Regions from separate parts of the Homo sapiens genome. Here region 2 is linked to region 1. The links come from fine-mapping of genetic effects on gene expression. A gene starts in region 1. The other region holds a variant in brackets. All regions are shown on one strand. Distances are from middle to middle. Region 1 holds the start of PRSS16 (serine protease 16). Region 2 has its middle 4.5 kb from the start of TRI-AAT9-1.

Region 1 (2,920 bases):
CCAAGGCTGCGGGATGGCCTGTGAAGAGTGTATGGGTGGGGGGTGGGGAGGTGAGATGCAAGTTGAGTTTAAGCCCTTTCACTCCTCAGGTCTCACAGCATTGCAATATGCAGCTCCCCTTCCTGGTCCCCACCAGCATCCCAACTCCTTTCCCCCAACATTGCCTCTTACCTCTCATCACTGAGCCAGGCCCAAGGCTGCCCTCACCCCCTAGATGCAGGAATATGGGTCCATCCTGGCCAACCCAATGTTGGTCATTCACCCAGTAACGCTGAGAGGTGGGATGGGGAAGAAGAAATGGCACTGTGAGAGTCCTGACTTATTCTCAATTCCTCATTTGTTCCAGTCTCTCTTCCTAATGGATCTTTCCTTATGTACTTAACAGTGTCTGAAATGAGCTTGTTTATTTACTTGCTCACTTTTCCCCTGTTCATCTCCTCATCTAGAATGCAAAATATACAAAAGCAAATTTTTGACCTGGTTTTTCACTCTTATATCCCCAGAACTGAGGGAGTGGCTCTCACATTGAAGGAACTTGCTATTTCTTGAAGTAATAATTGTAAAATAAGAAATAAATGCAGATGGATTTAGGAATAAGATCCAAGTGGGATGATATTTGGAGACTAAATACAGAGGAAGCACTGAAAAATGGCGAATTTGTTCCTTCTTTCGATAGATATCTTTGAGTGCCTGTTGTGAGCTAGGTCTGATTCCAAAGCTGGTTCAAATTTCTGCTACCTACTGAGACCTGGTGGTAGGTTTTGTGTCCAGTCTGGACAGGGACAAGGGGGTAGGGAGGAGCAGTGAATGTGAATGACAGAGAGAAAGAAATGGTGAAGGGCAAGATCTGAGGGACAAAACGAGTGGGACCCCGAGGAGAGGAGAGAGTAAGGCCAAATCTACAAAGGGCAGGAAAAGGGATACTGACAGCAAGCATAACATGAGATTCAAGCAGAGGGATGGGGAGAACTGAGGTGTGGAGAGAGAAAAAAGTGCAGACTGAGGAAGAGATGAGGGAGACTGAGGAGAGGGCAGGATGGTTAGTGGACTCCCCGTCTCCCGGCCTCACCTGTAGGAAGGATCGTCTGTCGGACACGTTGAAGGGGTCCAGCAGTTGCTCCAGCCACCCCACTTTTGGGAGGGCTGCAGCACCTGGCCCCAGGCTCAGGCCCAGGCCCTGGGCAGAGCTCTCCTGAAACTGCTGAATGTGCTCACCCAGGCGCCTAAGAAGGGAGGCTGTGGGACATGGAGGGAAGGAAGTCAGGCTGGCCCCCTTAGGATGCCCTGCTTGACCCTCAGCCTCCTCTTACCTGGAGCCAAGAGTCCCCAGAGGGAAACCAAGAGCAGAGGGCCCAGCCACTGGGCAAGCCAGACGGCCATGGTGTTCGGGACTCTGTTCTCCCCCAGGAGGACCTTTATCTTATCCTCAGCAGCCGGGCCTTAAATCCATCACCTTTCAGCAGAGGCTCAGGTTTCTTTCCTTTCCTGGCAGGTCAAGCGTCTGTAGGAACTGCTAAAGCGGGGCAGGGACGCCAGAGTCTGTACACAGAGGCTGCTGATGCAGCATCGGAACTCCCAGTTTCTTCTCTCTGGGCCTCTCAGTCTGTTCTTCCCTCAGCTCTCAGTAGCCCTCGCTGTCTCAGTCTCCTCCTCTCCGCTCTTCGGTCTACCTTCTCTTTATCTCAGATTCCTCCTTTGCATGCCTTATTGTCCTTCAACCTCTGTCTCTCCCCACCTCAGCACCTCCTCTGGAACCCCAGTTGCCCACTTATTCTCAGTCTTTTCTTTCTGCCCCTCAGCATATCTTCAGTACCCCTCAGTTGTTCCCACACTCAGTCTTTCCGTCTCTTTTTTCTCAGTCCCCCATCTCTTTTTCAGTCTTTCTCTCCATACTCATCTCTTTGTCCCCCAATCTCACCTTGTCTATTTTCCAGCCCCCTCACTTTCTGCTCTGCTTCACTGTCCCGAGCTTCTCTGACCCACAATCTCACACTGTCCATAGACTCCTTACAGTTCTTTGAACATACCAGGCTTGCTTCTGCCTTAGGGTTCTTATTCTTGTTGTTCCCACCCTATGGATTGTGATTTCCCTATATACCCACGTGGTTTGCTCCCTCACTTCAACTGGATCTTTATTCAAAGGTCATTCATTCAGAAAGGTCTTCCATGGTCAGCTTTTTAAAAATTGCCAAACCTATGGCCCTCTTCTATTCCTTTTCAAACTTTATTCCTAATTCTTTTTCATGGGACTTATCACTATGAGAAATATTGTACATTTAAAAAGTTATTCCCATAAATTTAAAAAATATATCCAGAATCTGATGACTTCTCACTACCTTCAGTGCTACCACTGCTGAGCCACCATCATCTCTGACTTGGGATATCATGGAAGGCTTTTAGCTGGTCACCCTGTTTCTGCCTCATGATTTATTCTACACTCAGCAGACAGAGAGACAGAATTAAATATTAGCCCAATCATTCACAATCATTCACTCCCTGGTTTAGAACACTTCCCTGATGCCCCATCTTACTCAAAGTAAATCTAAAGTTTTGAAAACAGTTTTTAAAACTCTGTATGACCTGGCCCCCTGTTGTATATACTGTCATGATTTCATCTCCTACCCCTCCTGGGTTCACTGCTCCAACTGCATTGGACTATTTCATATTTCACAAGACTCACTCCTTCCTTAGAATTTTTGCTCTCCTTAGGATGCTTTTCCTCCAAATATCTGCAAGTCTTATTTTATCACTTCCTATAGTTCCCCATTCATATATTTTATCTTACCAAATGGGTTTTACCTGACCACCCTTATAAATGGCACAACACCTGAGACCCTGTCCCCTGATCCTTCTGTTGTCACTCCCTGATAGTGATGACATTTTATTGCACTTCTCTCCCAAACCATTCCCCAGGAAGTAA
Region 2 (2,920 bases), 22 kb before region 1:
CAAAGTGCTAGGATTACAGGCGTGAGCCACCGCGCCCGGCCATGATGAAGTTTTATACCAAGAATTCAATGAGCCTACGCCTAAAGTTTCACCATTGTAATTTCCCAGGATGTCTTTCCTATATGGTATAGGAAAGACATCGAAAGATATCCTGGGAAATTACAATGGTAGTACTTTATATGACATATATGATAGACATATATGTCTATCATATATAGACTATATATATGATAGTCTATATAGGCTATATATGATATATCTCATATATATCATATATATCTCATATATGATATATATCATATATATCTCATATATGATATATATCATATATATCATATATATCTCATACATGATATATATCATATATATCATATATATCTCATACATGATATATATCATATATATCATATATATCTCATATATATCATATATATCTCATATTTGGTATATATCATATATAGTCATACATAGGCTATAAATATGATAGACATATATATCTATATATATCTATATTGTAAGTATAACACTGCCCACAAACCTTTGGATCATGATTGTGTAAGGGAGATGCTACACTTAACTTTAAGGCAGAAGAAATTAGCAGCAACTAGGACTCATATGTGACAACTTGTATCATAAGCACAATACATGGAATATATTCATGAGAGGCATCTGAAGTAATATGCTACACTCTGCAACAATTACCTAAGTTTCCCACATGGTTTTAAGACTTTTGTGCCTCGATTCTGTTAAAAATATCAACTAGTATAAACACTAAATCATATCCATTGGTTTTTTGTTTTTTGTTTCTTTTTGAGATGGAGTTTCCCTCTTGTCACCCAGGCTGAAGTGCAATGGCACCATCTCTGCTCACTGCAAACACCGCCTCCTAGTTTCAAGCGTTTCTCCTGCATCAGCCTCCTGAGTAGCTGGGATTACAGTCACCCACCACCAGGCCCAGCTAATTTTTATGTTTTTATTAGAGCCTGGGTTTCACCATGTTGGCCAGGCTGGTCTTGAACTCCTGACCTGAGGTGATCTGCCCGCCTCTGCCTCCCAAGTGCTGGGATTACAGGCATGAGCCATGGCTCCCAACCCACATACCCATTGTTTTTGCATAAACAAGTTAGAGGGCTGTTCTCTGAAATTCAATAGATATAGTTAATTAATACTACTACTGTGTTTTTAAGTGCTTAGGTTTCATGAGTGGACTGCAGGGCTATTTCAACTGCAACTAAATCAAATATGCTTTCATAAAATTGTCATTTAAAAAGACTTCAGAAACTAAGCAGGGGGAGAGGAC[C/A]ATTGGAAAGAGAAAAGGGTACTATGAATTGGAGGTTGTGGGGAGCAGAGGAGAAAACTGTAGGAGGGGAAAGTATAGCCAGCAATATTCGTTTAGTGATGCTCCAGAAACACATGTCTCTACTGAGATTTATCTTGATTGGAGCTTCTTATAAAGAGGCTGATTGTCAAGATTCTTGATGGAAGGTTTTTTTTTGTTTTTGTTTTTGTTCTTGTTTTGCTTCTTGATGGAAGTTTCTTATAAAACAGACTGATCACCAAGATTCTTAATTCAGGTTTCAAGCAATGACAAAATTGAAAACTTCAGCAAGAGAGATTTGAGAAGTGGAAGACAGGCAGTGAATTTTCCAATATTATGCTTGCATTTCAAATTCCTGTTTCAGACTTTTCAAGTAAGCATGCACATTCCCAAAGCCATTGTATTTGGCTAAATATTCAAGGACCCCAGTTTCCCACAGTCTATCTCGCTGCGAGCGGAAACTGCAGTTGCACGGCCTCGACAAGGCGGACAATGCCAGTTCGCATCCAGCAGAGTATTCCTGACCTCTTCACCACAAGGGTTTCTAAGGTCGGGGCCGCAGAACAGGCCTTGAAAGCCCCAACAGTCTGGGTTTCTGCAGTTTGTTTGATAACAATAGTTTTCTGGCGGCATTGATGACAAATAGAACCCAGCGAACGGTTATATATCTTCTCTTGAGAGTTGCTGCAGATGTTCTCCAAACCTTCCTCTGTAATTTCTTCCGGTGGCCGAATTATATGTGGAAGGATCATGGGTGATCTGGCGGGACGATTTCTGAGCATCTCAACTTCGTTCATGTAGCCGTCCACAATCTTCCTCTTTCTCACCAACATGTACTTAGCCTCTGTCTTTTCTTCCTTCTCTTCCGTAGGTAGAGCGCCAAGGGACCCGAGGATCCTGACCTTGACCTCTAAGAGGCCGAGCTCTCTCCATTCAGAATGTCTCCTTGAAGAAACATCCAGGAATGTTTACCTTGGGGTCTCCTTGATTGTGAGTTGGGGCCTGGCGGGGAATGTCTTCCGGGGAACAAACCAGAGAAGCTTCTAATACTGACATGCGTTTTACAAGCATTGCTTTGTTTTGCTTTATATTTCAAGCCCTTTCCTCAAACAAAACAAAACAAAACAAAACAAATTCATGGCACTTTCATCTTCTGAATCGGAATTGGAACCAGTCATAGAATTCCTTGAGGGTTTGGGGTACTCTGCTTTTTTATTGGCTGCTCCCCTGGTGTTTCGCCCTGGAAACTTCATCGCCTGCCTGAGAAGTCCAGAGTGTCTGCACTGGCTGCTGGTCCAGCAGCCTTCCTGGACTGACTGAAGCCTCGTGTTTGCAAAATTATCAGAAGCAAAGCTGTCATAATTGTCATGAGAGGATGACGAGGTTTCCATGGGAATCAACTTCACATATCGAATTTAAGATCGTCTTTACTCTGAGATCCTTTTGCGGCACGCGGAGAGCAGCCTTGCTGGCAGCGGAACTCTTGGTCTGCGCTTGGAGCCGGGAGAGCACGGTAGCGGCGCGCGTAGCGGTCACACAACAGGAGGAGCGGGAGGCGTGTGAAACTTCTTTATGAGAGAGAGAAAGTAGGAACCACCTGAA

The links. PIP is the estimated chance that this variant, and not a neighbour inherited with it, causes the effect. A credible set is the group of variants that fine-mapping cannot tell apart.
Region 2: its variant is the best candidate, but not a certain one, in a credible set for the expression of PRSS16 in whole blood (TOPMed, PIP 0.76).

What each region holds. Positions count from the first base shown.
Region 1 is chr6:27,246,198-27,249,117 of GRCh38, reverse strand. It overlaps PRSS16 (serine protease 16), which reads right to left and starts at 1,417. Exons shown (of 12, transcript NM_005865.4): 1 at 1,311-1,417; 2 at 1,070-1,236; 3 at 172-271; 4 at 1-18. The coding sequence starts at 1,380.
Region 2 is chr6:27,267,965-27,270,884 of GRCh38, reverse strand. It overlaps the pseudogene CDCA7P1. Among named protein-coding and RNA genes, the nearest start is that of TRI-AAT9-1, 4.5 kb to the left of the region's middle. The variant C/A (reference allele first, on the strand shown) is at 1,301.